Linked DNA regions of Homo sapiens: region 1 is reported to be linked to region 2. Evidence: microRNA targets listed by miRTarBase, many of them from high-throughput screens and not tested one by one. Region 2 holds a microRNA gene; the other region holds the end of a gene's coding sequence.

Region 1 (3,000 bases), not on the chromosome of region 2:
CCTCTATTTTTTTAATGTCCACCAACCTATCCTTTTTTATTTCAATGATTTTACAGTTAAAATCCAAACCAATTTATTTTACAGTTAATGTGCAAACTAGTTCGCCTCCTTCAGGTGGTAAGTTCTATCACTACAGCATTCTTAGAACTCCGGCTAACATGAGTTGATTTGCTGTGATCAATTCTCAGGGTCCTCCTGACTGCACAACAGTCAGACAGCTTGTTCCTCTTGCCAAGATTTTCTTAGATATTTTCACTCCCATGAATCTGCATGTTGCCAGGAGGTCTAATTTCCATGATAATGGTAACTGCTGGCCTCCACGCTAATGGTTGATTTTTGTCCTTTCCTCTTTGTCCCATGTAGGTGGGTACCTAGGCTGTGGCCATGGACACAAAGGCCACCCAGGTCATCCCCACTGGTCATGCTGTGGAAAATTTAATGAGAAATCTGAATGCACATGGACAGGTGGGCAGAGCGCACCGAGGAGTCTACTTAGGACTGTGGCTCTCTGATGGGTTTGTGCTCAGCCTTTTAAAGCTGCAGGCAGCACCACTTGAGATTTCCAGAGGACCCAGACCTTCGTTCATTCTAAAGAGACTGATAGAATTAAAAACAAAGTGCCTTATCTTGCACTGGAGTTCAAGTGCTCTTTTGTTAGTTATTCACTGATTGTACTTGTGGATGGTTGAGCACAAAAAACCACCTCTACATTTCTCTTAAAGGTAGGTTGGCAACGTTCTTTTTCTACCACAGGATACTCCTTTTCATTTTGTACAGTATGGAGGTATCTATTCCATTGGCACTGAAGGGTCTAGGTAGTTTAGTTCCTTTCTGATATAACCCTTTTTTTTTCTTTTTTTTTTTTTTTTAAAGACAGAGTCTCACTCTGTCACCCAGGCTGGAGTGCAGTGGCATGATCTCGGCTCACTGCAACCTCTGCCTCCCGGTTCAAATGATTCTCGTGCCTTGGTGTCCCGAGTAGCTGGGATTACAGGTTCCCCCCCACCTTCCCCCACACCCAGCTAATTTTTGTGTTTTTAGTAGAGACGGGGTTTCACCATGTTGGCCAGGCTGGTCTCAAACTCCTGACCTCGTGATCCACCTGCCTCGGCCTCCCAAAGTGCTGGGGTTACAAGCATGAGCCACCACACCTGGCCTATTATGACCTTTTTCATTTTTCTCTGAGCTACACATTATTTAGATATTTCCCCTAGAGATTAGAAACCTCCTTTCATCCTGTCCACTTTTTGTTAGCATACTTTCATTGGATTTACTGGTACATGTTTTGTGATCATGATAATGTGATCTTGTTTTGGTGGTGTCCCCCTACTCCGTCTCTATGCCATGACAGCCTTCTGCCCCAAAGCCTGGAAGATTACTCTTTGGTCAAGGGCATACAAATAGAAAGTTAATAAAGGGGAATGGTGTTGAAATAGAACCTCATACATTTATTACAGTTCTACTTATACAGAAAATCTAGACACCTTCATCCTTCTCACAGCTCTGTTTTTTAGTAGAGTAGTCTTTAGAGTAGTCTTCACTGTTATCTATATACCTAGAAAGTTAACTGGGAGCTTTGACTCTTACTGTGCCTTCACTCATAGTGTGCCTTCTTAGCTGCTGGAGAATTTGGGGAGAGGATGTACACAGCACTGGTGCCTCAGCCCTGCCAAGGTCTTCACTGTATATATTTTGTGTGTTCTTCTGAAACTCTTGATTTCTTATATGGCAATAAACTCAGCATGTATTAAATATAATTATTGAAATCTGCATTGTAAGATCCCTTAAGAAGTGGATGACTCACTTGGCGAATTGGGTCAGGTAAAGGAAGTGAATGATTAGATGATGACTGTCAGATCATTGTGGAATACATTTCCTCCTTGAGGCTGACAGACATGGGCTACATTATAGCCATAAATACTAAGATGTTCTCTGCGTTCTCACCCTTTTCTGGAAACATTCCCTTCAGCCTCTTTCTGTAACCCAAATCTGATCTTCCCAAAACACATTCCTGCCTGTCACCCTCTCAAATTATTAGCTATTTGCTCTTCCTCACTCCTTCTGTCACTCAGCCCAGAAGTATATGTCCTTTTAGCTTATTACTGCTGCTTTGAGATGAGTGGTTCTTTTTTTTTTTTTTTTTTTTTGAGACAGAGTCTTGCTCTGTTACGTAGGCTGGAGTGCAGTGGCACGATCTCAGCTCACTGCAACCTCCGCCTCCCAGGTTCAAGCAATTCTCCTGCCTCAGCCTCCCGAGAGTAAGCTGAGATTACAGGCATGTGCCATTACGCCCGGCAAATTTTTGTATTTTTAGCAGAGACGGGGTTTCACCAGGTTGGCCAGGCTGGTCTCGAACTCCTGACCTCATGATCCGCCCACCTTGGCCTGCCAAAGTTCTGTGACTACAGGTGTGAGCCACCATGACTGGCCGAGATGAGTGGTTCTTAACCAGGAGTGACTTTGCCCCTAAGAGGACATCTGGCAAAGTCTCAGAGACATTTTTAGTTGCCACTACTGGGGCAAGGTGCTACTAGCATCTTGTGGGTAAAGGTCAGAGATGCTGCTAGTCATTTTACAATGCTCAGGACAGCTTCCTGAAACAAAGAAGTATCCAATCCAAAATGTCAGTGGTTCCGCTGTTGAGAAACCCTGTTCTAGAGCATTAGCCCTACTTTTTTTCTAAAAATGGCCAGCCTTGGAGCTCATGCCTTTCAGCTATACAGCTTGCTATTCCTCCATGGTTCAGCCATCTACTGAGCCCCAAATTGTTCCCCTTCGTTCCTTGAAGATTATAGCATTGAGCTTGCTGTGACTCTGGTACAACTCCTTATCAATCTTGGGATAACTCATTGTCTACACAGACTTCTTAGTTCTGTGATCATTTCCCCAGTGTTATTTTTTCCCTACTTAGCCTTACATACCCTAGATCTTGATTCCAACTGCACCCTCTGCATAGTCTCAATTTCAGGCATCCTGCAACCACAACCTCCCACCTTTCCA
Region 2 (4,389 bases):
TTGAGACCTGCCCTGCCATTAGCTAGCTGTGGGAGCTTGGGCAAGTCACTGGGCCTCTCTGAGCCAATTATTTTCTCACCTGTAAATCTGGGAGATAAGCACTATTTGGAATGGCAGTAAATGGCACTCTTTCAGATTATGGATATTAATCATGCTGGATGCCAACGAGGAGGCTCAGTGGCTTCTTGGCCTTCCAGGGAAGGAGAGATGGTTGTGAGCCTCCATTGGTTGCTTGTTTGAGGAGAGGCAGTATGCAGAGTGGTTAGGAGCCCAGGCCCAGGAGTCAGAAGACTTGAATTTGAATACCAGTTCTACCACATTTCAGCTGTTTGGTCCTAGGCAAGTTGCTTCACCCCTCTGGGCCTAAATGGTCTTACCTCTACAGGGGGCTGAGTAATAATACTTCCTCAGGGCTGGGCGCGGTGGCTCGTGCCTGTAATCCCAGCATTTTGGGAGGCCAAGGCGGGTGGATCACCTGAGGCCAGGAGTTCGAGACCAGCCTGGTCAACATAGCGAAACCCCGTCTCTACTAAAGTAACTACAAAAATTAGCTGGGCGTGGTGGTGCACACCTGTGATCACCTGTGATCAGCTATTCAGGAGACTGAGGCAGGAGAATCGCTTGAACCCGGTAAGCAGAGGTTGCAGTAAGCCACGATCGCACCACTGCACTCCAGCCTGGATGACAGAGCAAGACTCCGTCTCAAAAAATATATATAAATAAAAAAATAATAAAATATAATACTTCCTCGGGGTGTGATAAGGATGGAATAAATGCTTTAATATATGCAAAGCACTGGCAGCAGGCCTGGCCTATCATTCGTGCTCAATAAACATTAGCTTTTGTTAGAGTTATTATTAAATCATTCCACCAAGAGTGGCACGCAGATAGTGGTAGAAGCCCCGGGCGAGGTTACTGCCCTTTAGAAGTTCCCAGGCTAATGAGGACGTGAAGCATGAACACAAATAATGAAGATACAAGGGAGAAAGTGGAGAAGGATGCTACCGAGGTGCAAAAATGGCACTGGGGATGGGGGGGAGAGATTGCTTCCGGCTTGGGGTATCAGGGATGCTTGCCCAAGGAGAGCGCTTATGAGAGCTGGGCTTTGAAGGATTTGGCTCAGAAGTCATGAGGGATGGGAAGGACATGCCTGGTGGAGGGGACAGAGTGAGGAAAGGCTGGGAGGGAGGAAATGAGATGCATCCTAGGGAAGAGCCCCAGAATGGTGACGAGCCCCAGCTGTGGAGTCAGCTGGCCCTGGGTGACCCTTGAACTGATTAGGAATTCCCGAAGAGAATTCACAGCTCCACTACTGACTAGTCGTGTTGCTTTATCTACAGAGCCTCAGTTTCTTTGTCTGTCCAGTGTGGGTGGTGACAATCTGGGGGGTCCTTGTGAGAGTCTAATGTGGTAGCATGCATGTGCCTGGCACAATGTTGGCACTCCGGGTTCGCAGCCGCTGTTAGTTAATGCCAGCACTCAGGCGGCCAGAGGTGGATGTAAGCCCTACATCCAGGACCTTGAAGGCCTAGGAGGAGCCATGGCAGGAGCCACGGGCACCTACCAGCATCCCTGGGGGTGGGCAGGGCTTGGTGCCGTGCTAGCATCTAACCCAGCCGCGAGCTTCCTTCTGCAGGTCCTGGAGCCCTGGCGTGGGGCGGGCCTCCTGCCGGCGAGCGCCTGCGCCCTTCCCTGGCGTGAGGGTATGTGCCTTTGGACTACATCGTGGAAGCCAGCACCATGCAGTCCATGGGCATATACACTTGCCTCAAGGCCTATGTCATCGAGGAGCCACCGGAGCTGCCACTGCCACCAGGGAGGAAGAGGAGGAGCCGGGATGTGGGATGGCAGTGGTGGGTGGGCTGCGGCAGGTTGGGCCAGCCACACCTCACTGCTTGACCGCTCTGACCCCCTTTCTTCTCTTTCCTAGGGCTACATTGGGCTCCCAGGGCTCTTCGGCCTGCCAGGGTCTGATGGAGAACGAGTAAGTTTGCTTCTTTGGTTATTCACCATCCACAGCCACCCCTGCCCAAACAGAGCAGAACCTGCCAGGCACCAGCCTGGGGAAGTCAAGGAATTCCTCCTGGAGGAGGTGCACTTGAGTCGAGTAGGAGTCTGATAAGGGGACAAGTCAAGGCAGATGCATTCCAGGCATAGGGAACAGCATGTGCGAAGTCAGGGATTTACGGTAACTTGGCGAGTTTAACACTCAACACTGCCAAAGTGCTGCGTGAGAGGGTGAGAGTGGTGGGAGTTGAGGCTGGAGAGGACCCTGGGGCAATGTCTTAGGTGCCCAGGACTAAGGTTAGAAAAGGAACTCTGTTCTGAGGGTATGCGGAGCCTCTTGAGGACTTGCAACCAATGAACACCGGGCCCACTTTATAATATAGATCAGGGGTCTGCAAACGGTGGCCCATGGGCCAAATCCAGCCAGTTGTCTGTTTTTGCAAACAGTTTTATTGAACTCAGCCTTGCTCATTTGGTTACATATTGTCAATGCCGCTTTCTCACTACAATGGCAGAGTTGAGTAGGTGTGACAGAGACCGTATGGCCCACAGAGCCAAAGATATTCACTATCTGCCCCTTTCCAGAAACCATCTGCTGATTCCTCTTTTAGACAGATCAGTTGGTTTACTTGAGTAAAATGTGTTGGTTGGGGGTGGGGACAGCAAGAGCAGGTGGCAGGAGTTCCAGCAGCCAGGGGGAGCGGCTGTCTGGGGAAGGTGGTGGGACTGGTTTGGTGGTGGGCAGTGGGTGCTAAGATTTCCTAAGACACCCTGTCCTTCCAGACCAAGTATCTAAGTCAGAGGAGTCCAAAAGATGGTGTGGGAGCTTCTCACAGACCCCTGGCCCAGCCTGGAGGTCCATTAGAAGCCCCTGGGGTGGTGGCCTCGGGATCTTCCTCCCCGCCCCCTCCCAACCTGAGCCCGTATCTATGGGAACTCACTTGTAACCTCCATAAGCTGGGTATAGAGAACCTTAGGACAGCTGGAGCCTGAGCATTTATGAAGCACCTGCTGATTACAGGAACTGGCATTTCTCTGTCTCTTAGGTCACCACAGACCCCGACCCTGCCATCCGTCTGATGTGCATGTCACTGGGGCCGCCACGCAAGTGGCACACATTCCAGGCCCTCTGTGACTTCCTGCCGTGGGTGGCTCTGGGCTGGTTTGGGGCAAGCCTGGCTGTCCCTGCTGGCATCCTGCCCTGACCTCTCCCCTGTCTCTCCCCTGCAGGGCCTGCCTGGCGTTCCTGGCAAGAGGGGCAAGATGGGTATGCCGGTAAAGATTTTCCGTGTCTATTACGCAGACTCTAGCGGGGAACCCCACCTCCCACGGCCACGCTGCCCTGGCCACCTGCTGCCTGGCATCTTCTGCTTCTCCCCCTGCTTTGAGTGTGGGGGCCGCATGTGGGGTTGTCTGGCCACAGGACCTGCTGCTGGCACACGGCGTGACTGGGGCCTGGCTGGGGCTGGGGCTTCCATGGGCTCTGGACCCCTCTGGGGTAGCTCCTGTCTCCCTGTGGGCATCAGTGGCTCTCCAGTGCAGTTCTGTGTCTGGGGGCTTCTGTCTAAGGTATTTGTGTCTGTGGGTCTGCTGTGACCGGGGGACCTTGGCTAGACCAGGTGACTCTGCTCCCATCTCAGGGAACACTCAGTCTCCACATCGTCTTGGTGTCATCCGGCTCTGTCCAGTTTGCTCATGCACACGCAAAGCCAGAGGACAATGGGGTTTATGGGCAGTGCCCACAGCAGGCATGACCGAAAGAGGGGCTCAGCGGTGACCCCCAATTCACCAGCTTTCTCTATGGCTCCCCATCATGGGAGGAAATTGTTTTTCCCTTTGTTTGGACATGTGCAGAACATGGAGAAAGAGCCAAGGCACGGAGAGATTAAGTCACTTGCACGATGAGTAAACAATGCAGCCAGGATTGGAACTCAGTTGGTTTGTTCCCGGTGTCTTTGATCTCAGTGGCTGCTTGAGGCAGCCTCTCAGGGTCCCTAGTTGGCAGTCATATTATAAAAATAGGTTCCCTAGACTCTTCGCCTGGAAGGAAGATCATTCATTCCAATTATTGAGAAGCGGGAAACTGAGGCTCTGAGAGGCAGAATGAGATACCAGGGTCCCTCTGCCACTGCCCTGCAGGTTGACTCCTTGACTTGGAACCATGGTCAGACCAAGTCTGGGCCTCCCATCGCTGGTGGTTGGTGAGGAAGGGAGTATGAAGAGGAGGCCTGGAGCATTCGAGAGTGCTCAGAGGGGCCTCTCCGTGCTTCTGCCACTGATGGGCATGTTAGCTGTTGGAGCGTTTAACCTGGGCCCTCTGGGGGCCAAAGAGGAAAAACAAAGAAAAGAAAAAAGCCTCAAAGAGCTGACAGAGGAGGTCCC

What was found. The annotated mature microRNA hsa-miR-455-3p reads GCAGUCCAUGGGCAUAUACAC and lies in region 2 at 1,743-1,763, shown strand. An mRNA with a match to its seed (bases 2 to 7 or 8) in the 3' UTR can be bound and repressed. Matches are read on the target gene's strand: a 7mer-m8 pairs with bases 2 to 8, a 7mer-A1 pairs with bases 2 to 7 and ends in A, and an 8mer does both.
Region 1: miRTarBase lists TRIM45 as a target of hsa-miR-455-3p. The part of its 3' UTR that is shown has no 7-base or 8-base seed match.

Annotation. Positions count from the first base shown.
Region 1 is chr1:117,109,817-117,112,816 of GRCh38, reverse strand. It overlaps TRIM45 (tripartite motif containing 45), which reads left to right. Exons shown (of 6, transcript NM_025188.4): 6 at 364-1,757. The coding sequence ends at 512. Among named protein-coding and RNA genes, the nearest start is that of TRIM45, 10 kb to the left of the region's middle.
Region 2 is chr9:114,207,745-114,212,133 of GRCh38, forward strand. It overlaps MIR455 (microRNA 455), which reads left to right and starts at 1,690; the gene lies at 1,690-1,785. COL27A1 (collagen type XXVII alpha 1 chain) reads left to right here. Exons shown (of 61, transcript NM_032888.4): 11 at 1,931-1,984; 12 at 3,238-3,282.